2 separate regions of the Homo sapiens genome follow, and region 2 is linked to region 1. Evidence: fine-mapped expression QTL. A gene starts in region 1. The other region holds a variant in brackets. All regions are shown on one strand. Distances are between the middles of the regions.

Region 1 (15,269 bases):
TAGAGAGCAGTGGCGCAATCACAGCTCACTGCAGTCTCAAACTTTGGGGCTCAGACGATCCTCCCACCTCAGCCTCCTGGGTAGCTGGAACTACAGGCACACACCACCACACCTGGCTACTTTTAAAAATTTTTTGTAGAGATGGGGGTCCCAACTATGTTGCCCAGGCTGGTCTTGAACTCCTGGGCTCAAGTGATCCTCCTGCCTAGGCCTCCCAAATTGCTGGGTTTACAGGTATGAGCCGCCACACCCAGCCTATGTTTAATGGTTTACTGGTCAAATGAAGGAATAAATGAAATATTAAGTCTTTTGTAATTTGCCTTTTGTACTAAAGGCACTGAAGAGTCTTATTTATCTTCTTCCCTCTGCATCTGCTTTCTCTGACTGTATCAACGTTTCTCTGCCCACATTACCAAACGCCTCTCTCCTCCACAGCTTTTGTCACCAGCATCAAAAAGAAGCATCAAAGACGACTTCTGTGGATGGCATCAGCAGACACCTAAGTTACAAATGTCCAAACAGGAGAGTCCCACTCTCCTGTTCCTCCAGATTAAAATATTTCAGCTAAAATACTCTGCCTCCTTTACACCTCATTCTTCGGGCTATTTGCTTGTTTGGGTTTATAGTTTCAAATCAGTCTGATTCACTGTCTCTTGAGTCATGGTGCCACTTGTGCACACACAGTCTAAAACTGTTCAGCCCTAAGAGGATCCCCTGGAAGGATGTGTGTTGAGGAGGCTGAATCTGCCTACTCCCACCTTAACCAATAGGCAGCCATTCCTGCACAGATTAATCACTTTACTTCCCCAACTCAAGTGACAACAATACACTCCAATAAGGTGACCCTGATTTTCAGTGTCTTTTCCACAGATATGTCTAAGTGATTTCAATTCATTCCCTCACTTGTTTGTATTCACAACATACTTATATTTCTTACCAGTAATGCAAACGTAAAACAAGTTTTGATCTTGGGGCTCTCCATCATGCTCAATGAGCTCTCCTCATTGTTCATGCCACTCTTCCTGGCTCCTTCAAACCCTGCCTCTCCGCTACACTCTTTTCAGTAACTTTTCAAGAGTTTAAAATAATCATCTATTGGCCAAACGGCAACAACCACCTTTCTTACCAAATCTACTTCCTCCTGAAACCCTTACTCTGGATTACGTGCCCACCTTAATACTCATCATCTGGGGGGATTCACTGTCTTTATCCATGCATGAGGGGTCTGCACACTGGTAGTATTTACATCTGTTTCAAGGGCTGGACAGCTCACTCTAGCATGCGCAGGAGCTGGCACAAATAGGTAATGGATAAAAGATGTAGAGACATACAAAGGATGGGTTAGTATTGTTCTTCTCTTCAATACAGACATTTCAGTGTCACAAGAACACCAATACAATGAATACAAAGTGGATGAGGCCTCAAGCCAATACATCTGGCCCTTTTTTTTTTGTCTATGGTTGTACCCATGGATATTAAACCCCGAAGATAAAATAAGATCCAAGTACTTGTAAGAGTCCAACTTAGGAAAAATTAACTTTACCCCACTTATTTATGGGGCGCCCATTATGTGCAATTCGTTCAACAAATACCAATGACTACCTATTATTTTAAGACATTTTGCCAACTGTCAGGAATAGAGAAGACATAGTGTCCCTGCCCTCAGAGATCTTCCAATTTAGTGGAGATACAGTTAAATAACAGATACAGCAACACTGTGATAACTCAAGCAAAGGGGCTGAGTACCAGGTGCACAGGGAACACAAAGGGTCTCCTAATCCAATTAAGATCCAGTCAGGATCCATTGTTCCTAGCACAGGAGAAGGGCAGATACAAAAGACGATGTGAGCAGAAGAGTGGGGCAAAGTCCTGAGTGTGGGGCTTTGGGGCCTGCAGGGCACTGCACCTTACAGTCCTCCTGGGGGAATAATCTAAGTACAGAGATGAAGATGACTCAGAACAAGGCAAGCTCTCCAATCAGTGTCCTGGGGAGTGTGGTTAACTAGGAGGGCAGGAAAGATAAAGATTCCCAAAGAAGACATGGGGGATGGCTGGTGGAAAACAGAGTCTGACCCAGTAACAGAAGAATGGACACATGGGATGGAAGGCATTCCTGCCATGGCACTGACATGAATTAAGCTGTAAAAGAAGAGAGAATAGCATAAGAACTTGCTCCAGGCAAGTAAGAGCAGAAGAACCATACTGAACAGCAAGAGGAAAGTGGTTGAGGGGCTGATTGGCTTCAGAATTAGGTAACTCTTATGTCAGCAGAATAACCAAGACACACAAATGCACCTCCTGAAGAATCTGATAAATATGCTTACCGTGGCAATGGTGCCCTCGCAAGAGTACTAAACTGGTAGTCAAGAGACCTACTGCTGATTTGCCGCCAGTCTATCCTCCTGTCAGATGAGCTGGGTGAACGTGTGCAGTGTCCATACATGAGTTGGGAAATAAATTTAGCAATTCACAACCATCTTTTTTTTTCTTTTTTATAAAAGTGAAATAGGCCAGGCGCGGTGGCTCACGCCTGTAATCCCAGCACTTTGGGAGTCCCAGGTGGGCGGATTATGAGGTCAGGAGGTCGAGACCATCCTGGCTAACACGGTGAAACCCCGTCTCTACTAAAAATACAAAAAATTAGCCGGACGCGGTGGCGGGCGCCTGTAGTCCCAGCTACTCGGGAGGCTGAGGTAGGAGAATGGCGTGAACCCGGGAGGTGGAGCTTACAGTGAGCCAAGATGGCGCCACTGCACTCCAGCCTGGGCGACAGAGCAAGACTCCGTCTCAAAAAAAAAAAAAAAAAAAAAGTGAAATAAAACAACATATTCTGCTATGTGTGCTGCCCATAGAAAAATTACTGTTTTGTGAAGCATTGGCTTCAGGTATGTGGATACAGACGTGTATGTGTGCTTGATCAAAACGTAAAATGTGTTTCTTACTGTGAGGTTACAGTCAAAACAGTTTGAAAAGCACAAGACATGAGGATCTATAAGGTTCCTTCAAATTCTAAGCTTCGCATGCAGCCTTCAAATTCTAACCTTTTTTACAGGTGAATAAATTAACTTAGATATGAGTTCTGGTATAACATTAAATAAATCATGGGCAATCTTTAGACATACCATCAGATAATTCAAAGTTATCCGAAACAATTACCCTTAATTCAACTGATACACTATCAGATAATTCAACATTATCCAAAACAACGCCCCTTAATTCAACTAAATATGACCAAAAAAAAAAAAGTTTCCAGGAAATAACTACACTCCACGTAAGCTGTAACACAGACACACCTGTATATTTGGGGCAAAGGGTGAGCCATGTGAAAGGCTTTCATTGTAATGTGGACATGCACACACAGAAGCAATGTTCTATGGAAACTCTTCAATTAAAAAATCTACTCAAGGTAGGATTTTCATGTTTCAAATTTTAAAGATCTAATGCCAACCTTATTTTTAATACCTTTGCCAACAGCAAATTCTAGCAAGCTATAGACTGTGTGTGACACATACTTTTGAAACCCTTTACTGGAACAGGTGGCTTTTAACTACTTACAGACTCTGACCCAATGCATCTGCATATGATACATTCTCATCTGCCTAAGCCACTTTCGAAAAGCTATAATCCCAATGAGGGCATCCCCTTCAGGACTTCAGGAGGGCATAAACATGCAACATAGAGCAAATATTAAGTACTTCCCTGTTGGACAAGCCATTTTCCCAGACAGGCAAGGAGTCACTTAGGAACATATGCGTGAGTACGAATGAAAAAAAAAAATCATTAACGTTGGTGATGTGCATAAGCAAACAGGTTTTAGATAAAAACTATAGAAGGGTCCATGGCGACAATAATGCCCGGTGTACTTCCTCTGGGGACTCTTTCATCTGAAGAAATCAAATCTCATCATAGACATGGCCTCAGGTTATTTTCACCATCACTGCTATGAGGCAGGTCGGAAAGGTCACAGATACCCAAACTGGAGCACAAACAGGTAACCTGACCTGCACATGTATAAGACTTTTGTCTAATAGTGAATAAAAGTCAGGTTTTTGGTTTGCTTGTTATAAAACAACCAGGTCTAACCCCTAAACCATGCCCCCAGTTTGTGCCTGGCTCACAGATGGCCCACCCTAAACACTTTTCAGTCCTTCTGTGAATGCTAATTTAAGGTCAGAGATTTCCCAGCCCCTGCAAGTTTCAAACTTATCCTGGACTGTTATGGAGGCCGTGTGGAAGGTGCCAGGCCCACAGCTACCAGCTAACTTCCTGCCCCACAGTGCCACTACTTTGCCCCACCAGGAGGCAAACTCCCCGCTCCACCTGACGCTCCAGCTGTTTCCAAGGTTGCCCAGACATTGTCCTGCCCGCACTTTACAACCAGAAAGTCTTTTAGAGGCCATCCTGTCTCGCCCACTGACTTTACAGGGAAGGAAACTGAGTCTAGAAACCCATGTGCCTTGCCCAAGGTCACTTCAGCTCGTACAAACGAAACTCGAACCAAGTTGTTTCTTTCTGCCCGGTACTTAAGCACCCACACTCTGCCACTCGCGGTGACCGGAGCCACAAAAGACCCAGCCGGTGGGCCGGCGACACACAGGCGAGCCAAAGCAGGCAAAATTCTCTGAGTCCGAGCTCTCCAGGAACCTGAAGGCTGGCGCGGTTTTTGGAGAGGGTGGGAGCAAGCCAGGGTGGGACAAGAAAAGCGAATTTACGGCGGCCAAGGGGCTCTCCGCTGGCCCTCAGCCCCGGAGGAGGGGCCCCTCTCCTGGCAGGCCGCCCCAGGGGCCCCAAGAGACCCCCACCCCGCCTCCCCACAGCTGGAAGTCAGGCCTGGCGACCCCGGCAGGCTCACCGGGTGCGCAGCGCCTGCCACGCGGCGTCGATGTCGGCGTAGAGGTTCTTCTCGGAGGGCTTGCCCGAGCTGACGCCGTATCCCGAGTAGTCGTAGGAGAAGATGTTGCAGTTGATGCGGGAGCCGAGGCCAATGTAGAAGCTGCACATCTGGCCCAGGTCCACGGCGTTGCCGTGCGAGAAGAGCAGCGTGTAGCGGCTGGAGGGCGCGCAGCGCACGAACATGCAGCCGAGCCGGTTGTCCCGGGCCGTGCGCGAGAAGAAGACCTCGACGGCGTCCAGCTCGCGCTGCGAGTACTGCCAGTCGGCGCGCTCGCTGAGGTGCAGGCTGCACGCACCGGGCCCCGCGCCCGCGCCCTCCTCGGGCTGCTGCGGTGCCGGCTGGGCCGCGGCGGCGGCGGCGGTAGCCTGGGCCGGGGCCGGGGCGGACGCGCCGGCGCCGCGCTGCTCCGGCGCCAGCACCGTGTAGGTGGGCTCGGGCGGCAGGAAGGCCAGCTTGGCGGCGATGCGGCTCGGGCAGGGCGGGCAGCAGAAGAGCCAGCACAGCTCACCCAGCGAGAAGCCGTTCATCCTGGGGCCTGGCTCGGGCATCGGGACGGCCTGGTGCCCGCCGCCGGCCCGGCTGGCTGGCTGGCTGGCTGGCCCGGGAGGACGGAGGACGGACGCGCGGCGAGGGAGCTGGCAGGCGAGCGCGGAGGGCGGCTGCAGCCCGCCCGCCCGGCGGCAGGAGGAGGCGGAGGCGGAGGAGGGCAGGAGGCGGGGCCGGCCCGGCGGGCGCGGCGCTCGGAGCCCGGGCGGGTCAGCGGCGGCCCCGGAACCCAGGCGAGGCGCGGGCGGCCCGGGCCCGCGCGCGGCACACAAAGCCGGCGGCGGCGTCCATGGCCGGCTCGTGCGCGCCGCCCCCCGCTCCCGTTCCCGCTCCCGCACGCCCGCCGCCGCCGCCGCCGCCGCCGCCACTTCCGGGTTACCGCGCGGCGGCGCCGCCGCTGGGACGCGGCGCAGAGCCGGGCATCGGGGCGGGGCGCTGCGGGCAAGGGCGCGGGCACCTTCCCCGGCCTGGGAAGCACCTTCTCGACCTGCGGCCGACGGGGGCTTCCAGGCGGCTCCGGGGCCCGGAGAAGCTGGGTGCCGGGGCTGGGGGCTCTGCGCCCGGACAGCTGGGCCGATCTGCAGAGGGGACCCTGGAGGGGGTGCATGTGTCCCGGGGTGGACCGCTCCCCTCCCCTCCCCCTGGGATTCCCTCCCCCAAATCCAGGTTTCTCCCGTGGATGGAGGTTCTTGGGAGTCTACTGAAAAGGAAACTAAGGGGTGGACAAGAGTTGGAATGTGCCCGAAATATTTGGCTCTCGTGTGTGCTGCTTTCTGAACTGGCTCAGTACCAAAAGTTCTCAGCACCGTAAGGGGTACCGGGGTTGTGGGATAGGGTGGTCATCAGTGTGTTTCTTATTAGGAGAGGCTGTTTCTGTATAGGTAGCAACAGCGTTTCCTTTCTAAGGGCATGGTTTTACCCTTAGTACATTTCTGTATCTATAAAAGTCAGCTGTTAGAACAGGAGGGTACTGTATTTAGCAACAAACCATGTTGAGGTTGTCATTTCTAATCCCACGTGTGGCAGATTTTCCGGTAGTAAGTATATACTAGGTATCGTTTACAGTGTTTGTGTCTCTAGAGTTGTTTTGGGTCCAGGATTTTTCAGTGGTCTTAGTCATGAACGATTCTTATACTGCTTTAAATCTACTGTAATCTTGGCAGCCACCTTTACATGATTTTTCAAATATAACTCTCGGTGCCTTGAAACTGTGCTCTGGTGCCAGTTTCCACAGAGCCTTCTATACTTCCTTTTTCCCGCCTGATTTGGCAGCTGAAGAATTCCCTTTCAGGAACTGACAGGAGATACCCTTCCTGGACTGCCAGCAGGGCAGCTAGAGACTGGGAGGTTGGCACAATCCCTACGCTGGGTCTGTTGTTTTAACTCACAGATGTCCTGAGAATTTTACCTTTCGTTGTGACTTTCCACAGGACGAATATTTTGAGCACCGTCATCTAAATGAATTGCCGATACTGATTTCATTAACCTTCAGGACCTCGCTTTTAATTTTTTCTTTTTTAAGAGACAGGGTCTTACTGTATTGTCCAGGCTGGACTCCCAACTCCTGGGCTCAAATGACCCTCCGGCCTGCCTCCCAAGTAGCTAGGACTACCGGCACATGCCACCTTGCCCAGCTAGGACCTGGGTTTTAAAAGGCCATTTCTTCACTAAAACAATTTTACTTGTTTTTGAACTATTCAAACTTGATTTTTAAAAACCTGGTAACAAAGCCTGTCCAGATTGCATATTTGAAGTCTGTTTTGAAGGTTTTCACACTTGGTGAAACTCTTCACATAAAGCCCAATTCTAGCTTTGCAGGTTTGCATTTCCTTTTTTTTTTTTTTTTTTTTAAAAAAAGAATTTTTCTGCGAAAATCCTTTAAAAAGAAAAAAAAGCTTTATACAGCTGGGCACAGTGACTCACGCCTGTAATCCCACCACTTTGGGAGGCTGAGGAGGGTGGATCACTTCAAGTCAGAAGTTCAAGACCAGCCTGGCCAACATAATGAAACTCCGTCTCTACTGAAAATACAAAAATTAGCCGGCCATGGTGGCGTGCACCTACAATCCCGGCTACTCAGGAGGCTGAGGCACGAGAATCACTTGAAGCTAGGAGGCAGAGGTTACGGTGAGCCGAGATCATGCCACTGCACTCCAGCCTGGGTGACAGAGTGAGACTATGTCTCAAAAAAATAAAAAGGCTTTCTAACTTGCTACACATTGGTATACTTTGGTCACTTTATTGTATTCAGCATTTATGTATGTAATGTTTTTTGTGCTCACAGCATCCACTGTGTTAGGTGCTACAGCTACCAAGGTGAGTAAGATAGTCCCTGCTCTCAGATACCTTACAGTCTAATTAGGGCATCAGCAGAAGATTCAAAACAGTTTTTATGTGCCTTTAAAAAAAATCAAGTCCTCATAAAAGCTAAGAAGATGGTCTTGCGTCCTGATTCAGTGGTGATATTTCTATGGGGAGCTAAGGTTATAGTCGAGTGCATTAGTCCCTAATCTAATTCAGAACAAGAATCAAACTTTGGGAACTGAGATGAAAGGGTATCTAACAGCCCCCTAGTCAGTCTTTCTCAGATACCACTCCTCTCACCTGTCCTTTATAAGAATTGAATAGCCCTTAGTTCATGAAAGGGGGGAATGATGAGAGTCTCAAGTACTCGTCTTCTGTGCTGCTGATGGAAAAGACAGTCTTTATATTTCAGATGGCCTGGCAGCAGTGTTAGCATTGTTAGAAAAATCTAAAAGCTAGATACTTGTTTATTTATACCTGGTCTCATTCCACAAGGGATTTGTGGAGTGTGATTCAGTATAATATAAATACATAAGCAAATAAATAAAAGCCTGGCTTTTGTTTTCATTCTATTACAAGGCTACACAGAGGTGGGCTGAAAGAGCATTTATTCCCCAGGAAAACATGTTGGTTCAGGTTTGTGTAAATATTCAGTTGAGACCCTAAAATTATATGCCGTAGAGTGAAGCTACCAAGCCTTTCTTATCTCATGCCACATATAGCCAGTGGTAGAGTTTCTGTAGCCCACTGACATGAGACGTGCTGCCCAGGGGATAAGAGGTTAAAGATCTCAGCACGTCTCTAACATCTAACATCTTTAACAACAAATGTGTTAGTGTGCCTTGTCATGTTGGTTTGGAAACTTTAACATACAGCACATAAAGAATGCATTTGCCCTATAAAATGTGAAAATTGGGGATTACCAGCTGTCCACTTTGACCTTAAAGCAGCAGTCTCCAACCATTGTGGCACCAGGGACTGGTTTCATGGAAGGCAATTTTTTTCCATGAAAATCCTAGTTAGATTCTCATAAGGAGTGCGCAATCTAGATCCCTCGTATGCACTGTTCACAATAGGGTTTGCACTCCTATGAGAAGCGAATGCTGCCGCTGATTTGACAGGAGGCGGAACTCAGGCAGTAATGCTCACCCACCAGCTACCCACGTCCTGCTATGTGGCCCAGTTCCTAACAGGCCACTGACCAGTACAGGTCCACGGCCCGGGGTTTGGGGACCTCTGCCTTAAATTTCTATGTCATTCTGATCATCCTAGTAGAGAAAGATCTAACTTTGAGTTCAGGTCAGCAAACATATTTACTCTGCTAGGTACTTATCATGAGTCAGTCACTGAGTTGACTTGGGAATGTAAAGGTGGCTAATGCACAGCTCCTCCTGCCCTCAACAAGTGCATTGTATGATCTGTCTCTTAGGTAACTCTGTATCCTGCCAAGCCAGCCAGTATTGATGAACTAAACAATATTCCACATAACTAAATACCCTGATCTCTATTACTTAATATTGGCCCTTTACACACTGAATTTTGGCTTCCACACTAGTCAGCTGGATGTGGAGTTGCTCAAGACCACTTTTATTTGTAAAAGTAGAACCAACTTTTGACCATAAGAGGATACTCATGCTTAAAAACAGAATCTGGTTGTCTTGATGGAATCTAAGGTAATGTTGCCCCATTGTACATTTTTTTAAAAATTTGGGACTGGATACTCAGTGAAATCAGGGATCATGTGTATTTTGTTCATCGTTTCCCCTATGACTGGCATAGAGAAGATGCTCAGTAAATGTTAATTAAATTGCTAAATTAAAGAATGAGAGGCCAGGTGCAGGGGTTCCCACCTGTAATCCCAGCACTTCGGGAGGCTGAGGCAAGCAGATTGCTCGAGTTCAGGAGTTTGAGACCAGCCTGGGCAACGTGGCAAAACCCCATCTCTATAAAAAATACAAAAAGAAATTAGCCAGGTGTGGTGGTGCACTCCTGTAGTCTTAGCTACTCCAGAGGCTGAGATGGGAGGATCACTTGAGCCCAGGAGGTCGAGGCTGTAAAGAGGTGTCATCATGCCACTGTACTTCAGCCTTGGTGATAGATCAAGACCCTGTCTCAAAAATAATAATAAAATAAAAGAATGAATGAGTGATTTAGTGAATGCTTCCAAAATACCAAGCCTGTTCCTTCTGGTTTGGGCAGTATTATTGGAGTTATGGGCTTTGAAGAAGATACAAAGTGGTCCAGAGCCAAGGCCAGCATCACACTGTGTCCTCTGGCTAAGGAATTGTGACATTCTCTCCATATTTATTACCAATAGAGCTCAAATTTTGTTATGGTAACAATGTACCCAGTTAAGATAGTCACTCAACCTCCCCTGCCATCAGGATGGCCACATGACAGGATTCTGTCCAATAGGCCCTAACTGGAGAATACTGGGGGATCTTCTGGAGAGACTTTTAACAGAGCCAGGCTCAGCTGTAATGTTTCCCTTCACTTTTTTTTTGTTGTTGTTCCTGCCTGGGTTGCAGGCATTGTTTTTTGAGCAACAGCAGCCATCTTGCAAGCATGAGGGTAAATTTCACAGCTGAAGATGGTGGTGCAGAAAGATAGTCTATTTCCTTCATGGTTTAATAGCTGCCCCGATCTCGCCTGTATTTGTCGAGGCTTCTTATGTGAAAAAACTAAGTCTTTTTATGTCATTGTAGTTGGTTTATTTGTTACCTGTAACCTAATGCAGCATTAACTGATTCAGGAATCAGAAGCAAAGATCTTACATTGTTCTTAACTGCTTTCTGAATAAGGACAATGAGTACTTTGTTGATCGGTAGTGGAACAGTGTGCCTAAATCCTGCTTGCCCCTCTGTAGAAAAATATTTAAGTATGACTGACTAAAGATGGGAAAACGTTTTAAGGAGATAACCAGTAAAGTAACAAATCTGAAATGTGAAAACATGAAAAGGTTATAATTTTTAAAATAAATGATACTTTGAGGCTATTCCAGAAGTTCTATGCTGACATTAATTAGGATAAGAGGCCTGCCATTCAACTAAACACTTTTGGAGGCAAAATATCTTTTCCCAGAATCTTTTTCAGTCTGAAGGCCCTTATCCAAAGGGTTGTAAATGAGATGACTGGAACCCAGCCGGGGAGAGCTCTGAGATCCACAAACCGCTGAGAAAGCACTGCAGAGATAAAGATTGAAAGAAATAAAACACCACCCACCCACAGAAATGTGTTTTCACAGTTCCTATAACCACGGTCATTCCATGGATGATAATGCCCTCAAACCTGCATTTCTGACTCATCTCATCCAATCTCCTATTCATAGATTCTTAACAGGGGGTCCAGAGTCCCTGAACTTGATGACAGAATTTCGAGTTGGTACAGTACTTCATAGGATCGGTGTCCACCTGTTTTTCCCTGTGTAATCGGCACCAAACATCATATCCTAGTACATAATGGGAACATAAAACACCTTTGTCACTTGATTGGAATTAAATTTCTGGTGATTTCCAAACACTTAAAAATATGCAAAGATGTAATAGACTGGATTTAAGTAATAAGTAAATTTAAACTTAATAAGTAATTTTTTAAATGGAAAGTGGGAAGGAGCAGCCTCTTATATGCTGAGTTTGCAAATCTAATTTTAAGATGATGATGAACAATATCATGGCATCAATTTTAAGTGTTTTTTAAAAGAATTTTGGATAGTTGCACATTAACACAATATACATGGATGATTATAGTGTTATTCCTGGAAATTTTTAATAACAAATGTTAAATGCATGTTCCAAAAAATAGTAATACCAGCATGAGACCAGAGAGAGAAACCAACAGGACCTAGCAGTGTATAAGTATTTTGCATATGATGAAGTTGATATTTCAAATCAGTGAGGATACATTAACATATTCAATTAGCTACATATTTGGAAAACATCAGTTCTGATGGATTAAAAAATCAAAGATTTATTTTTAATGAAACCAAGAGACAACCAAAAAAGAAATTTAGATAAAAATTCATGGGCTGAGTGTGGTGGCTCATGCCTATAATCCTAGCACTTTGGGAGGCCAAGGTGGGAGGATCACTTGAGACCAGAAGTTCAAATATAGTGAGACTCCATCTTTACAAAAATAAATTTTAAAAAGTAGCCGGGTGTGGTGGTGCACACCTATGGTCTGAGCTACTCAGGAGGCTGAGGCGGAAAAATTGCTTGAGCCCAGGAGGCTGCAGTGAGCCATGCTTGTACCATTGCACTACAGCCTGGGTGACAGAGTGAGACCTTGTCAAAAAAAAAAAAAAAAATTGATAACATAAATTTTCAGTCTTCTCTATACTAAAATATTTACAGATGAGATGACATGGTATTAAGGATTTGCTTTAAAAAAAAAATCATCTGCCTGGTGCTGTGGCTCATGCCCGTAATCCCAGCACTTCAGGGAGCCGTGGCAGGTGGATCGCTTGAGCCCAGGAGTTTCAGACCAGCCTGGGCAACATGACAGAACTTAGACTCTACCAAAATTACTGAAGTTAGCCAGGCATGGTGGTGCTTGCCTGTAGTCCTGGCTACTTGGGAGGCTGAGATGGGAGGATTGCTAGAGTCCGGGAAGCAGAGGTTGCAGGGAGCAGAAGTCACACCAGTGCACTCCAGCCTTGACGACAGAGCAAGACCCTGTCTTAAAAAGAATAATCAAATCAAATCAAATAATGTGAGGAGAGGGTGAGGAAGGAAGATAGACAAGAAACAAGATTGATTGGCCATGAGTTGATAATCGTTGAATCATGGGTTGATGGGTATATGGGGGGTTGATATACTGTTCTCTACTTGTGTATATGTTTGAAAATTTTCATAATAAAATTTACATATTTTTTAATCTTCAGGATTTTGACAAACTGGGCAAAAATATTTGCTACAAATTCATTTTTTTTTTTAAAGTCAAACACCCCACTGGAGAAAAATTGTCAGAATAAATGACCAAGCATTTTATAAAAAGGAGTACAGATGGCCAATAAGCATATGAAAAAATGTTTAGAGTCATTAGTTTTAAAAAAGCAAATTTGAAAAACTGTATTTTTTACCCCCTTCGATTGACCCAAACTAAAAGATCTTTTTCTGAAAACGAATAAAGACCACTAGCACTCTGTTGGACATGGTGCTGGAGTGCAGGCACTCTCATATACAACTTTCTGGCAAGAGTGTTAATTCGTATAACTTTCTGGAAGGAAATTTGGCAATATATATCTAAAGGCTTAACAACATACCTTCTGGTAATCCAGTAATTCAGATTGGAAGTTACTCTAAGGAAATAACTCATTTCTCACATAGATTTTAAATACTAGGATGTTTATGACAGCATTGTTTATCATAGCCAAAAAAAAATTGAGAACACCAAAAACTAAAGTAAATAATAGTACAGACAATAGAGTGATATGTGCCATTAAAATGGAAATTGAAGAACCGTATTTACTATGGTACGAAAATATCCACAATATGTTGAGTGAAAACAGAGCACAAAGTATATACAGCAATATGTAAATATACTTTAAAAGTTCAAGCCCTGAAGAACACTATCACTGACTTTATTAGGTCATTCTTGCATTGCTATAAAGAAATACCTGACACTGTGTAATTTATAAGGAGAAAGGTATAATTGGCTCATGGTTCTGCAGGCCGTACAGGAAGCGTAGTGCTGTCGTCTGCTTCTGAGGAGGCCTCAGGAAGCTCCCAATCATGGTGGAAGGTGAAGGGGGAATAGCTCTCTCATGTGGCAGGAGCAGGAGCAAGAAAGATGGGGAAAGGTGCCACACTTTTAAAGAACCAGATCTTGCAGGCACTCACTCGCTATGGCAAGGACAGCACCAAGCCATGAGGGATCCGCCCCCATGACCCAAACACCTCCCACGAGGCCCCACTTCCAACAATGGGGACTACATTACTCTTCCAGCATGAGATTTGGCAGAGACACAAATCTAAACCATATCACTGGCTAGTGAGATTATGGGAGATTTGTTTTTGTTTGATGGTTGTGTCTTGTGAATGCATCTATTCTGTAAGTTCTAAGCATGTGTTATTTTTGTAATTAACACTAAAATAATAAAGGCCATTTTTATGCAAAACACACAAAAAAGGAGGAAAGTACTCACAAATAATGAAAATGTTCTTCTAGCTATTCTAAGATACTTTATTTTTTCTTTTTTAAAAATATTTCTTTTAAAAATTTAATTGTTCTTCTTACATTTTGTTAACTGTATTTTTTATTTTTTTTGAGACAGACTCACTCTGTCACCCAGGCTGGAGTGTAGTGGTGTGAGCTCAGCTCACTGCAACCTCCGCCTCCCAGTTTCAAGTGATTCGCATGCTTCAGCCTCCCAAGTAGCTGGAATTACAGACATATGCCACCACATCCAGCTAATTTTTGTATTTTTAGTCGAGACAGGGTTTCGCCATGTTAGACAGGCCGGTCTCGAACTCCTGACCTTCAGTGATCCGCCTGCCTCAGCCCCACAAAGTGCTAGGATTACAGGCATGAGCCACCGTGCTGGACCTATTTAAGATACTTTAAAATTAATATCTCAGAGATAAAGTAATTTTCTATTAATATAAGAACAAAACAATGTTATTACAATTGAGTTCAGCAAAGCTCTACCAAGACCTACTATGAGCCAGAAATATGGTAATTTCTGAAGAAAATACAAAGATGAACAAGACAGCCCATGCCCACCCTCAAGAACGTTCTCTCCCTCTCATATCCCTCTCTCTTTTACAATCCAAATGATCTGGTTATGTAAACTTTCTCAATATTGGTACCTGCTGTGACAGTTAATATCATATGTCAGCTTGACTGAGCTAGGGGATGCCCAGGTAGTTGGTAAAACATTATTTTTGGCTGTATCTGGGAGGGTGTTTCTGGAAGAGACTAGCATTGGAATCAGTAGACTAAGTGCAGAAGATTCACCCTCATTAATGTGGGAGGGCATCATCCAATCCCTTGGGGGCACAGATAGAACAAAAAGGTAGAGAAAGAGTGATTCTCTCCCATCAACAGTCCCTCCACCCCACCTACTGTTGTCCAGTTCCTAGGCCTTTGGCCTGAGACTGAGAGTGACACCATCAGCTCCCCTAGTTCAGGCCCTTGGACTAAATTACACCACGGGCTTTCCTGGTTCTGCCATCTTGCAGACAGCAGATCATGGTACTTCACAGTCTCCATGATTGTGTGACCCAGTTCCCATAATAAACCTCCTCTCTCTCACCCTGTCTCTCCTATTGATTCAGTTTCTCTGAAGAACTCTGACTAATACACTTGCTTAGCCCAAGGATGTGCTTTTGTCTTCTGTGATGGTTTTTGCAGCAGGTTTACTGTCTTCTCCTCTCTTCTCTACCTTCTTCTCCATAATGATGACAGCAGTAGTCATAGTGAGGATGCCCAGATAAAGAACCTGACCTCACAGTTCTGTATTGCCTCATCTCTCCTGACCCTTTTACTTATTCTCTACTGAACTACCCCTAACATTGCCACTCTCTTG
Region 2 (15,269 bases), 25 kb before region 1:
ACTTAATATCTATAGAAACAATGCTAATGACTGGTTTGCTGTTAATAAATATGTGGGTAAATCTCTGTTCGGGGCTCTCGGCTCTGAAGGCTGTGAGACCCCTGATTTCCCACTTCACACCTCTATATTTCTGTGTGTGTATCTTTAATTCCTCTAGTGCCGCTGGGTTAGGGTCTCCCCAACCGAGCTGGTCTCAGCACAGCAACAATAGCCTATATAAACAAACAAACAAACAAACAAACAAACAAAAAACTGCTGGTGCAGCGGTTCACACCTGTAATCCCAGAGCTTTGGGAGGCCAATGTGGGAGGATCACAGGAGTTCAAACCCAGCCTGGGCTACATAGCAAGACTACATCTCTATAAAAATAAATAAATAAAAATTAGCTAGTCACGGTGGTGCACACCTGTAGTCCTAGCTACTCAGGAAGCTGAAGCAGGAGGATCACTTGAGGCCAGAAGTTCACGGCTGCAATGAGTTAGGATCATGCTACTGAACTCCATCATGGGCAACAGAGTGAGACCCTGTCTCTAAATAAATAAATAAATGAAATACATAAAAATTATAAAAATGACACCAGGTATTGAGAGGTGATATAATGAGAGTCATCTTGACCATCAAAATAAGCAAAGCTATAATACTACTAAACCAGAATGTAAAATTCGAGCTTAAAGAACCTGCAGATAATCACACAGAGCAGGAATTCTCACCTATCCCATGTCTGCAACAGCCCATCACTCTGAGAATGCCTGAGGAAGGAGACACTTCAGATCATCTCCATTCCAAGGGTCTGCTGACTCAGAAACGGTGGAGAAACTTTTCTGTATTTATGGGTTCAGTGTTTGGGGCAAATTTTGGTTCATGAGGTTGTATTCGTTGTTATATTCTCTGTAAGACTGGACCCTGATACCCAATAGGCAGTCACATCCAGAAATGAAACTATCCCATAGACAAAATCGTGTTGGTTAGGCACACTGCCCTGGTGTCTTCGTGCCTCTTCCCTGCAATTCTTTGTTTGACTCTGGTCACTCTGTAAGACACTAGGGTATAAAAACATAACAACAGTGGTTATATAATGAAGACAACATGGAAGTACTACTTGGTGCAGGATTTAAAAGACCTTTGATAGGATTTGTAATAAAAATTGTCAAAGTAAAAGCATGTCACTCTGTTCTCCTCCACTGAAACCCACCACCAATAAAAAGATTCCAAGAAAGGGCCAGGAGCAGAAAACTCCATCCCTGATAAAACTAGGAACAGAATGAATAATAGGAGGAGGGAACTGGAGAAGGAGAAGGAGGAGGAGGGGGAGAAAACAGCACTGCAGGTTACTTTTGTGCAGGAGCATCCATCACCCTCCCAGACCCACAGAGCTTGGGGGCAACTCTACCCAGTACAGACACCAGAGACCAGGCAGCAGCTGACTACAGGAGGCATTTCTAAACCTTATTTGTGGCTCTATTTTATATTTTTTCAGCCTTATTTATGTTTTTCCTTATGAGAATTTATCCCTTTTAATATTTTATACATCATTCTAAACAAGACATAACTCAATCATCAATCAAAAATCACTGCACTGTATAATACCCAACTTCCACAGTGACGACCCTGAGTCATTAATAAATTATTACACTGCCGATTTTCTGCTTTGATGGAAAAGAAGTACACAAGATATTTTAAGCCTATTTCATCACAAATGATAAGGGGTTTTTTTTGGAGGGGACGGGGAAGGAGGAGACAGGGTCTTGCTCTGTTGCCCAGGCTGGAGTGCAGTGTCATAATCACAGCTCACTGCAGCCTCAACCTCCTGGGCTCAAGTAATCCTCCCACCTTCTGGGATTAAAGGCATGCCCCACCACACCTGACTAATTTTTTTTAATTTTTTTTGTAGAGGTGGAGTTTTGCCTTGTTGCCCAGGCTGGTCTTGAATTTTTGGACTCAAGCAACCCTCCCACCTCAGCCTCCCAAATATCAAGGATTACAGGTGTCCACCACCACACCCAGCTAATTTTTGTATTTTCAGTAGAGACAGGGTTTCACCATGTTGGCCAGGCTGGTCTCGAACTCCTGACATCAAGTGATCCACCCGCCTCAGCCTCCCAAAGTGCTGGAATTACAGGTGCGAGCTACTGCACCCGGACTGAAAATGATTTTAAATTCATTCTGCTCAGAGGCCGTCAGGAGGACAGACCATACTGACAGGCAAATGCAAGCACCCCGTTCACCTCAGCTGCAGCAGGATGATGCCACAGCGGTTGGTCGGATTAGAAAGGACTCATGCCATCGGCCACGCAAAGCAGCAGCCTCTCTTCCTGCACTGATTCTGTGTGCCCCAGGAAACCTGTGGCAATGTGACTTTAAGTTGTGCCTGAACAGAGACAATGTGTTTATAACAACGCAAACATCCGCTTGACCTAATATTTCTCATTGTAAGTTAATAAACTATCTATTAAGAGTCATTTAGTGTGTACTAGCTGAGTCTGATAAACTGTGGAACACTGATAAGATGGGGTTTTGGAATCCCTAATACTATCCATGGTAAATTACCCCTTAGACTATGGTAATTCAACAAGAGATAATGAGCATAGGCCCTAACAACATGATCTAGTCAGTTCCTTCCTTATGGGACACCAAATGAAACTAATCTGGCTGTCAGCATTATTAAAATTACAGGACAGTCTCACCCATGGAGAAGTTCACCTGCAACTGTGCAGGCTTCATTAATAGCAACTTCTGTTCACACAGGCTGAGAAGTCAGTGGTGACCCCTGGGTCATGGGAGGGGGTGCCCTGATCACCAGCACATGTAACAGCCTTGGCAGCTCACAATGAAAAACACAGGTTTATAATATTGGAATTTAAAAGATTCCTTTGTGTCATTCAGACAAATGTGATACACACACACACACACACACACACACACATATATACACACACACAAACAATGGAATACAGCCATCCCTCAGTATCCTTGGGGGACTGGTTCCAGGACGACAATCCTCAGATGCTCAAGTCCCACAGTCAGCCCCGCAGAACCTAAGGATGTGAACAGTTGGTCCTCCGTATCCACAAGTTGTGCATTGCTTAAACACTGTTATTTTCCATCCAAGGTTGGTTGAATCTGTAGATGCGAAAGCTAACTGTACTACTCAGCCCTTAGAAAGATGGAAATCCTGCCAATTACAACAACATGGATGGTCCTGCAGAACTTTATGCTACATGAAATAAGCCAGACACAGAAAGACACATGCTACGTGATCTCACTTACATGTGGAATCTAAATAGGCAAACACATGAAGCACAGAGTAGAATGGTGGTTGCCAGGCGTTAGGGGAGACAGTAATGGGGAGGTGTTGGTTAAAGGGTACCAAGTTTCAGTTATATGAAATAAATATCTGGAGGTCTACCGTACAGTATAGAGCATATGATTAACAATACTGCGTTGTACACTTAAAAATTAACCAACAGGGAAGATCTCATGTAAAGTGCTCTTACCACAAAAGGAAAAAAAAAAAGGGTGGGCAAGAGAAAACTTCTGGAGTGATGGATAAGTTTATGGCAACAACAGTGATGACAGTTTGATGGTTTCATAGGTGTAAACTTCAAATACATCAAGTTGTATATATTAAATATCTACAGCTTTTTGTATGTCAATCACAGCGCAACAAAGCAGTTCTTTTAAAAAAGATTCCTTTCTCATAGTGAAGATAAAGGGGAAACATTAAAAAAAAAAAAAAAAAAGATTCCTTTGGCTTCTAGTTCAAAATGATGACCTGAGCCCATCTGTTCACTTTTCAACCAATCCAAACATCACTGGAAAAGCAGCATAAAAATTAGAAAGAAATAAACTTACAACAGCAGAGAGAATAGGAAGACAGGGAAAAATCAGAAGGAATTCCAGTGCGCTTCTCGGTAACTGAAGGTGTGTGGAAACAAACTGACGGATAAAATCGAGTGGAGAACTCTGTCCAGGACATGCTATAACAGGGCTGCAGGGAAGATGGAAACCACCTGAATCCCAGAGAGGATTCCGACTCAAAATTAGCATGCAACTAAAAATAGGTAAATTATAGGAAGTCTGAACAGAAAGTTATACAAATCCAACTCCCTTCCCAACACAAAGTATAAAGCCCTCCTGGGTGAGCTAAGACTTTTAGTTGGTGCTCTCAAGGAAAGTCATCCTTATGCTGGCACTGGGGGGCCTCCTTCCCTCCAGAAACAAAGTCTACCACAACAAGGAAGGAGGCCCCCAGTGCCCTACTGGCTGCGTGTGTCTGAAAGCCCCCAGCCAAATTTCCTCTTGCGGGAGAGGCCTGGCAAGGAATACCACCTTACGCTGCACAGAGGAAACCCAACCTGGTTACCCAATCTTTCCTTCCTCAGTGTAAACTGAAGAACAAAAGTGACGACAATGACAATAGCATTTATGGCACATCTGCTATTTTGCCTGTGATGACGATGACAATGACGATAGCATTTACGGCACATTTGCTATTTGCCTGGCACAATTCTAAAAGTACATGTACTAAATGATTTAATGTTCAATACCTCTAGCAGTTGGATATCATTATTATTAAAGTACTTTGCAATTAGGAAATGAAAAAGCCAAGATTCAGCCCAAATCTGAGCCAGTGACCAGGCTCTTTATCACCAAGCTAACCTACCAACATACAAGGAAAGCTAGCAGCATCAAAGACCCAAGTATCTTTCACAGAGGACTCAGACAGGTATGGGACCAGCATATAGGGCTTAAAAAAATAAGTATACTCTTGGATTTATGAAAATATATCCTTAAAACAAGAGCAGGATGTTATGAAAAAGGGAAGTCAAAGAGTTAAAAAAAAAAAAAGACAAAAAATGATGGGTAAACACAAAATCTAACTCACAGTCCCAAAAATAAAGTTGAAGAGGCCTCTCAGAATATCAAACAAAGTAGACAAAAAGATGGAGAATATGGGAGACAAGGAAAATCCAGAGGTCAGTATAATAGAAGTTGTAATAAAAGACACCTATGAAAATGTAGGAAAAGAAATTTTGAAAGAAATATTAAAGAAAATCTCTGAGACCAAAGGATCCAAGTCTTCAGTCGGTAAGGGCCCCCATTAAGTGTTCAACATAAATTAATATTTTTTTTTTTTTTTTGAGACAGAGTCTCACTCTGTTGCCCAGGCTGGAGTGCAGTGGCGTGATCTCGGCTCACTGCAACCTCCACCTCCCGGGTTCAAGTGATTCTCCTGCCTCAGCCTCCCAAGTAGCTGGGATTACAGGCACCCGTCACCACGCCTGGCTAATTTTTGTATTTTTAGTAGAGACGGAGTTTCACCATGTTGGCCAGGTTGGTCACAAACTCCTGACCTCAGGTGATCCGCCTGCCTAGGCCTCCCAAAGAGCTGGGATTACAGGCATGAGCCACTGCGTCCGGCCATTAATAATCATTTTTAAAAGACCCTCCCTTGGAATATTTTTGTAAAACTTCAGAACACAAAGAATATATATAAAAAAATCCTAAAAGCTTCCTTAGAAGAAAAAACAGGCCAGCTTCAAGAAACCAGAACCAGTCCAGCACCAGGCTCTGCATTCCAGGTGCCTACAGGACAATGCCTTCTACATTCTCAAGTCAACTGACCTTCAGACATGGATCCATCAAGTGGTTTCTAGAAAGTTTACCTCCTACATTTCCATTCCTTTGAAGATATTACAAACTTCCTCTAGCAAAACTAGAAAGAGAACCAAGAAAGAACAAGTAGAAACTGGAAAACAGGGGGCCCACCAAGAAAGGGGAAAGGCCTCAGGTGATCCCTGAGTCCTGGGCAGGGAAGCAGAAAATTAAATTGGGAGAAAGTGAAAGGTTCCAAAAGACAAGGGAGAGTGTGATGCAAAAGACAGTGTAACAAAGAAGACAGAAACATCTGAGCAAATGATGAAACCCCACGATCCTTTTCTAAACAACAAAAAGAAAAGGAGGCTGGTTGCGGTAGCTCACGCCTGTAATCTCAGCACTTTGGGAGGCTAAGGTGGGAGGGCTTCTTGAGCCCAGGAGTTCAAGACTAGCCGGGCCAACATGGCAAAACCCCACCTCAACAAAGAATACAAAAAAATTGGTTGGGCGTGGTGGTGTGCACTTGTAGTCTCAGCTACTTAGAAGGCTGAGGTGGGAGGATTGTTGGAGCCTGGGAGGCGGAGGCTGCAGTGAGCTGAGATCACACTACTGCACTCCATCCTGAGCGATAGAACAAGACTCTGTTTCCAAAAAACAAAAAGAAAAGGTGATCACAAAATTCAGGAAATGTAAAATGTAATATAAAGAAATCATGATTCAAAGATGAAATTAGATATATAGCAGTTTTTAAGCCATGATTGGAGTACACATTTGCCTTAAATCAGAAAGATCTACAAAACATGATCTTTGAATGGGCTGGAAGCCCTGAAACCATGTGTAGAGATGAAAATGTTACTCTAGCATAACACATATCCCCATAGTAATGATATTTGCTGATTTTTTAAACTTATAAATTCAAATGATAGAAATCAATGGAAAGTCACTTGTGACTACCAGAAAGAATGGAGATGTTTGCAACCTTAATCCTGTAGTAGTAAAAGTTAGGCTGACAGCAAGTAGGAACTGGGGGTAAGGAAAGGGAGGAGAGTTCGGGTGCTCATGCAAGGGGACAGAAGAAGAAATAAAGCTCATGGACATTACCTAAAAATTACAAACACTCTCAATGAAGAACCAAAAATAACTATAAAACACTGGAAATAGTAAAAGGAAGTCCGCAAAATTGGTTAACCAAGAAAAATTCTCACTTCTTTGCAGAAAGTCAACAAATAACTGTCTAAAGTTGTTCCTGGTTATTAGGAGTCAAGAGGAAGAGGGATGGCTCTTGCTTTTCTTCGTGATCTTTTCTGTTTGACTCGTTACATTGTCTGCATATATTATTTAAGTAGAAACATTAAATGTTATCATTAAAATGCTACTCATTTATTACTAAGTCTTCTCACTGGAAGGCTGGTATATCCTAATACCTAATAACACATCTTACTGTACTTATCAAGGCATATTCTCCATTAATACCCCAAAGGCATTCCTTCTTTAAAAAAATAGAAGAGGGAGTTACTACCCTGTATGTCGCCATCATCACTGTATGAGGACATGAAATGCTGGCATTATTCAGACTGACTGACAAAGTTACACAAAGTTATTATCTCTCTCCTCTACCTTACTCTGCCCTTCATAAATCAACCGTGTCTCTTCAGCTGTAGCAAAATGACGCCACTCTATTGGAATGATGCTGCAGTCCTCCAAGTCACCAGATGCTAATTTGCAGTAATTACATTTAAGAATCTGATCTAAAAACCAAGATTGAATATTAAGGTCAGTGGCAAGGAGATATTGATGGGCAAAGTGTGGGGTTTAAAATTACAAGAAGCGGCTGGGCATGGGTGGCTCATGCCTGTAATCCCAGCACTTTGGGAGGCTGAGGTGGGATGATCACTTGAGATCAGAAGTTCAAGACTAACCTGGCCAACATGGTGAAACCTCGTCTCTACTAAAAAATACAAAAATTAGCCAGGCATGGTGGCACATGCTTGTAATCCCAGCTACTCCAGAGGCGGAGGCAGGAGAATCACTTGAACTCGGGAAGCAAAGGCTGCAGTGAGCCGAGATTGTGCTACTGTGCTCCAGCCTGGGCAACAGAGTAAGACTCTATTTCAAAAAAATAAATAAATAAAATTTAAAAATAAAATAAAATTACAAGAAGACATTTAATATAGATAAATATTTTAAAGTCTTCAAAGCCAGTCAAAAAAAAAATAAACTACAAGCTAGAGACCTGATTTGGCAATAGTTTATGGGGGGAAATTTTTTGAGGGAGGATCTTATAATTGATCAAAAGCATGGGACTGTTAGAAAAGCTTACACGGGCAGTGTTCAAATCTCAAACAATCCTATGCTCCTAATCTAAACCACCTTCCTAACAACTCAAGTAGGCTTCTGTTTTGTTTTGTTTTTATTTAACTATTTATTTATTTTTCAATAATCAGGCAGTCTGTCTGAACTGGAACAGGTTCAGAGAGACTCCCCAGGCAGACCTCTGTATTCCATGATGATGGGGCTACCAGCTAGTAGTTCCGTTAGGCGAGCAGCAGCATCCTTACTCAGCAGTACTTGTGAAATCATGGGAATATTTTATTGCAACCATTTTCAAATTCTGTTTCAGAGCATCTTAAGCTCCCCAGGAACCTAGTCCAGGGGAGAAGGTTCGGCTTCCTACTCTGGTTCAATCCTAATTCAACTTTTGAAGAAAAATGGTTCCAATTTTTAAAAATAAAGATTGCCAAATAAAGATTTTAAAACCACTGTTAAAATGCATTTTGCAGCTGGGCACAATGGCTCACGCCTGTAATCCCAGCACTTTGGGAGGCCGAGGCGGGTGGATCACTTGAAGTCAGGAGTTCAAGACCAGCCTGGCTAACATGATGAAAATACTAAAGATACAAAAATTAGCCAGGCATGGTGGTGCACATCTGTAATCCCAGCTACTCAGGTGGCTGAGGCATGAGAATCGCTTGAAACTGGGAAGCAGAGGTTGCAGTGAGCCAAGATTATGCCACCGCCCTCCAGCCTGCGCAACAAATTGAGTCTGTCTCAAAAAAAAAAAAAAAATTTGTTGTAATTTTATAACGAGTGGAAAATAGAAAAAAATGAAAGTGCTCAAATTAATAATAAGCCCAAGACTCAAACTTAATATGGATGAGGCAAAGATGAAAAGTATTAGCTATGCCAAAACTCTTTTTTTTTTTTTTGGCCCCCATCAAATGCTCACTGGCCTCTGGCTGATAGAGTGTATGTTCAATTGTAAAGGAAAACAAGAACATGTAAAGCACATGTGTGAAAACCCAGAAATAAATGTCATTTAAAAAACTATTAATAAAAATAAAAATATAACTAGGGAAATATTTTTAAGTAAGCTTTCAATGAATGGAATCTTCCCTATAACAAGTCTATCATCCTGCTCAAAGCAATATTTTCAGAAATGCTTTTCAGATAATAGCAGGCTATTTGTTCATCTTTAAGCCTCATTAACTGGCGAGATGAGGTCATGGGGGAACAGACCCACTGCACTGCCCCTCGTCAGACCATACCTGCACTACGGGCCTGTCTCAGAAATTCTGCTCAACAGGGATGCGTTCGGAGAGAAGGACATGGATGGTGAAGAATTTGGAAATACCTTATACAAAGAATGGTCAAGGGAACTGGGAACATTCCGGCTGCAAAAGAGATTAAGTAAGAGAATAATTTAATCTACTTCACCCAGGATTTATTGAGGCTCCACTTCACGTTAGGTTCTGTAGGG[A/G]ATTCAAATATGAACAAGACGCCACTTCTGCCTTCATGGAGCTTACAAACCAGCAGTTTCCAAGTATCTGATGGGATGTAAAGTGGAATGACAACCGAGAACTAGGGATTTAAGATGATTTCCTTTATTAATGGCATCTTACACTAGAGATCCAATCTACCAAGAAACCTACAGAGGCTCTAGACATGATCGTAGCTCTTCTATTGCCAGGGCCCCCTCATTTTAGGGTTAAAGGGAACTTCTTACTTTGTAGAAATTGTGGGGGACCTACAGACTGGCAAGAACCCATGAAGCAGAGACGTTTCCAACAAGGTCACAGGCCTTGTCTTACGCGGCTGTCCCTGTGGTCTTGAGACAGAAGCATGTCGGAGCTTAGTCTGTGGAATTAGGTCAAAGAGCCTTTACTGAGAACTGCCAAGGACCAGGCTCCTGAGCAGCTAGTTATAATCAACATCCTTTCTCCCTGGAGTACGCACATCTCCAGGAAGCCACCTGCAATAATAAGCCATGCTCTTGGAAGATAAAAGAACCCCCTTCTTTAGTTACCTCTTAGAGTTAGGCATGTTGCAGACTCCATAAACACATCAGACTGACTTTTAAAGATTTTGACTCCCTGTCTAAAAAGATGCAAGTCAGTAGGAAAAACTGGTCCTTGTTTAAATAATCAGGAATAAAATGTTGCTCCAGATTATTTAATATAGGTTATCATGGCTCAAGAAAACAATTACAGTAATGTCCACAAGCATACTGTAAGAATTAAAATTCAATTGCTCTAAATTTTTTTTTTCAGGTCAAATAGGGAAAGACTATGTTGCTAGACCATTTGGACACACTGCTTTATTTAGACTGACAAAAGCATTACAAAGCGAATGACAAAAATGACTACTAATGGCAACAAGTTAATCTGGGCAACTGAAACCCTGAAAACATGTAAAAGTCGAAAGAAATACATGGAAACCTTGCACTCACTACTTAACAGCCATGTGGGCTGCACAGAACCGTTCTTAGGAACCAAGAGAGTGTACGTGAAAGCGCTTTGAAGATCACAAACCCATTTAGAAATAGGTGGGTTGCTCTTCCTCAAATCTTTGAAAGCTGTCTACTACTATAAATTCATTCATTCATATCTTTCCCTCATTCCTTTCAGTTTTTTAAAAATGTATTCTATCCAACTTACATGTAAGCACTTTGCAAACACTCACTCATTTACTATGAATAACAATCCTACTATATTCACAATTATCATTTCCCCGCTTTACAGAAGAGGAAACTGAGGCACAGAGATTAAACAGTGTAGGCAGGATTCAAACTCAGGTGGTCTGGCTCTACTGTCCTTGCTCTTAACCTAGGCCCACCTACAGTTATCCAGGTTTCTGTTTACTAATCCTCAGCCATCTTCCTCTGATCAGAATCAACATAAAAAATGGTAAAGTGGTCAGAACCACCCAATCCAAATGGTGAGAGGAATCTGAATGGCCATTGCAATTCTTTCCTTCCTTTCAATTGATTTCCAAAGACTCAGGAGAAATTTTATGTCATCAGAAAACAGTTAGACAATATAGAATTCCATGGGGGGGAACCTCTCTAGGGGTATACAAAGTAATCTTTTAAAATGCAAACTGTGTAGGCCGGGCGCGGTGGCTCACGCCTGTAATCCCAGCACTTTGGGAGGCCGAGGTGGGCGGATCACGAGGTCAGGAGATCGAGACCATCCTGGCTAACGCTGTGTATTTTTTTATACTGCAGAAGATTATACCTAGCACTTAGCCCAACACCTGACATATATCAAGTACTCAATTTGTTGAAAGACTGCAATTTCTAAGCATTTTAATTTACTGTCATGCTCAGATACTGTATTTCTGAGAAAAGAAATCCAAAAATATATTAAGTAACACTATGAATTGAGAACACTGGTGTCTCAACTTTTAATCATGCATTCTTTTCCATAAAAATGAGAGCAGGTGCTCCCGATTTGTGCGTGTCTGTGTGTGTTTTAAAACACTACAAAATCCACAGAAATTGAAAACACACAAAAAACAATGAAAAATAATAAATATTAAGCCAAAATATAAGTTCTGGTTTTGTCTTTCTGCACCCCTAGCGTACGTCTTGAGCATTTTCTAGATGTCCACCCCCCGCCACCTTGGAAGACTATGCATGTAGTGAATATTTTCTAATTTTAGAGCATAGGCTCCAGGGTCAGGCTGCCTGCGTTCAAATCCTGGCTCACCTTTTAACATGGTGTGACCTGGGACAAATCATTCATCTATCATGGTCCTAAGTTTCTGCATTTGTGAAATGGAGACAACAACAGTTTGTGCCTCACAGATGGGTGGCGATTAAAATTATGTAATGTGTGAAATGTGTTTAGCATAAAACAGACGTTCAAGGAATGCCGGATACACCAGAACTACAATCTAATGCAAACTGCCTACTTTATAAATGGAGACAGGCTGGGCGTGATGGCTCACGCCTGTAATCCTAGCACTTTGGGAGGCCAAGGTAAGCAGACTGCTCGAGCCCAGAAATTCAAGACCAGCCTGGACAAAATGGCAAAAATCTCTTCTCTACAAAAAAATACAAAAATTAGCCAGGTGAGGTGCCCTGCACCTGTAGTCCCAGCTACTCAGGAGGCTGAGGTGGGAGGACTACCCGAGCCCAGGAGGTCAGGGGTGTGATGAGCCATGATTGCGCCACTGCACTCCAGCCTGGGTGACAGAGCAAGACCATGTCTCAGAAAAGAAAAATAATAAATAAATAAATATATGTGTGTGTGTGTGTGTGTGTGTGTGTGTGTGTGTGTGTGGTCTGTATATGGAGACAATGAGACCCAAAGATATTATAAGACTACCCAGGCCATACAGCTGTGTACCTCAATGTTTTTTGTTGCTTTTTTTTGAGACGGAATCTCGCTCTGTCACTCAGGCTGGAGTGCAATGGCACGATCTCTGCTCACTGCAACCTCCGCCTCCCAGGTTCAAGCCATTCTCGTGCCTCAGCCTCCCGAGTAGTTGGGATTACAGGCGCCTGCCACCACGCTCGGCTAATTTTTTGTATTTTTAGTAGAGACGGAGTTTCACTATGTTGGCCAGGCTGGTCTCGAACTGCTGACCTTGTGATCCACCCACCTTGGCCTCCCAAAGTGCTGGGATTACAGGCGTGAGCCACTGCACCTGGCCTGTACCTCAATATTAATGAAAGCCAATGTTCTCCCAGCTCCAGACCAGGGCTCTGTTTATGGCATACCACTAATTCTGGACAAATGGGACACACTCCTGGAGTTCCCTATCTTTCTTTCTGTTTTCCTTTCTAAGGCTGATTTTGAAAAAAAAAAAAAAAAAAAAAAAAAAAAGAACAAGACCTCAGTGGCTTTCCTTCGGTAACTATTTGGTATTAAATTTATCCACAACCTCCCTTAACTATACTCTCATAGTGCAATCCACATCCCAAAAATGGCAGGACACTGTTACCACGGCACACCAAGGAGAGCCTGGCTCTGTGGCTGGCTCATCACTGCGCCTGAGAGCTGATGTGGGTGGCAAGAAGACACTGCTAGGAAGTTAAGAGAGCTATGATTTGTACATTCCAATGCATGTACATTTTTCCTTAAAAAAAAAAAAAGACTTACAAAGTAGTAATAAGAGGCTGGGGGTGGAGTGTGAGTGGAACTGTAGATGCTGTAAGAATGGTGGAATGTTAATAGTTGCTGCAGGTGATGAGACCGCCATGGAATTTAGCTTAATATTTTCTGTACATTGTATATAATTTGAGATTTTTCCATTATAAAGTTTTGTTTTGTTTTTAATAAACAACATGGCAAAGTAACAAAAAGACAGCAAATGCACAGGTCTCATGGATCCGAGGAGATGAAGCTGATAGGCAGTCAGTAAAACTATAGATTTAGAAAAAAATTGTTTGAATTCTGCATTTTCATTATCAAGTGACACTTGAAGTATAGGCATATCCTTCAACCATAACAACCACAGTCACTTTTCCCAAGTATTATAAAAACATATTAGAATGAGCTGGCTGTCAATCCACATATGGAGGGCTGTACTACACTGACAGATGGACACACTCCTCCCTAACACACCACAAGAAGAACAAACATTCCCCTTCTCCTCTGAGCACTTCTGTTACACTTCTTGGACCTCACCCATAGACAGGTGAGGCTGCTCTTAAGAAAATAAGCTTTGTCTTCTATACAGAAGTCCAGGCAGTTGAAGGATCGATGGCAGGCTGTTTCCTGGGCCCAGAGGGCTCCTTCTACCCCTCCTTGGCTGGGCTACACATTCACATCCATGCCTAGAGAGGAACCTCAGCAGGAAGCTGGGGCTGAACCAGCCACCTGACTGATGCCTCCATTCCAAGAATCAAAGGAGATGAAGGCCCCACATCCTGAACCTGAAAAGAAAGAGCTCTCAATACAAATCCTACCTCTTACAGTGATTCAACCCAGTCCTTCGACACAAGAACTATTGTACTGGGCTCCGGGTGAGTCTAAAGAGTTAGATACTACCTCTGTCCTCAAGGAGATCACATTCCAACGGAGGAGTCCAGGTACAGTCATCAGTAACCAAAGGACCAGGGGATAAGGGCTAGAACAAAGGCATAATCTTAGAACTATGGGGACAGAGAACGGGAAGTCTGTCTTGCTGGCAAGGAAGAGATATGAATGGTGCAGGAGGGCTAATGGACACCAGCATCTGACGACTGCAGAAAAGCAGGTTAAGAGCAAAGAAAGGCCACGGCATTTTTCTTCCTTCATAAATATACAGGCAGCAGTCTTTCATTCTACCTAGAACTTTTCAAAAAAGAGTTGCAAATGAAGGGACAAGTCCTGAGAAATACAGACTCCAATTGTTTGGTGTGTTAGTTAGTTAGCTTTGCAGTTCTTTAGCAAATGTAAATAAGAGGAAAACTCAAAAATAATACAAGAATGGGTTTCAGAAGATCCAATGCCTGCAAAAGTCCCCAAGAAACTGGTCCCATTTTCAGTTCAGAGAGGAAATACAGGAAAATAGACAGGCAGGAGGCATTATGCAAATTAAAACTGTAATCTTCACCACACTTAATCCTGCCAAAGTAATTATGGTTCTCTCACATTTTACAAATCAAGAAACACTAGTCCACACCGAGTCAGTAGGAGGGTTTTTTTTGGAAATAATCTAGTGGAAGCCAGGCAGCATGCAGTAATGACAAGACCTCTGGCAAAACTGCAGTGCATAGAGCCTCCTATGGGAAATCACCTGCGGGCTGCCTGGGGCTGCTACAGCAAGCATGGAGCTGTCCTGCTGCTCTTCTGGGTGCTGGAAAGAAATCTTGGGGGAAATGAGCGATCACTCTCCAGCCACAGAAAGTGACCAAAGAGCCACAACCCACAAGCTGATGTCACACTCTGATGTCAGGATGCTCTCTCCTACAGAGACCTGTCACTCAGTGATTCATGCGAGCATCCGATCCTCAACACTGGGTTCTTTTAAAGGCCTGGTGGCAACACTGATCAAAGATGCTACGGAGCCAGATGAGCAGAGCGCCTACAGGGTGATTTTGGCACAGAAGCAGAGGTAGGTCCACCCCAGGAAAAACTGCCAATTCTTTCAGGTTTGTTTTTGGCTTAATTGCCTTTCCTTCTCTGAAGGGAGAATTCCCAAATTTATTTCTAGCCCAGACCTCACTCCTGAACTCTAGACTTAAATTCTATTGCTTACTCTACATCTCCACTTAAAGGTCTGATGAGCGCCTACAGCTCAACAATACTCCTGATCTATGCCCTGCCCCACAATCCTGAGCCACTCACAGCCCTCCCCATCTCAATCAACAGCAATTCTGCTGGGCACGGTGGCTCATGCCTGTAATCCCAGCACTTAGGGAGGCAGAGGCAGGGGCAGGAAGATTGCTTGAGCCCAGGAGT

What was found.
Region 2: its variant is fine-mapped to the expression of ABHD17C in whole blood (TOPMed, PIP above 0.99).

What each region holds. Positions count from the first base shown.
Region 1 is chr15:80,685,603-80,700,871 of GRCh38, reverse strand. ABHD17C (abhydrolase domain containing 17C, depalmitoylase) reads right to left here and starts at 5,562. Exons shown (of 3, transcript NM_021214.2): 1 at 4,853-5,562. The coding sequence starts at 5,442. RefSeq lists silencers at 4,739-4,798, 5,219-5,268, 5,359-5,778, 5,799-5,908, 5,929-6,088 and 1 more and an enhancer at 4,959-5,028.
Region 2 is chr15:80,710,793-80,726,061 of GRCh38, reverse strand. The region is part of intron 1 of ABHD17C (abhydrolase domain containing 17C, depalmitoylase); the gene reads right to left. Among named protein-coding and RNA genes, the nearest start is that of ABHD17C, 23 kb to the right of the region's middle. The variant A/G (reference allele first, on the strand shown) is at 9,356.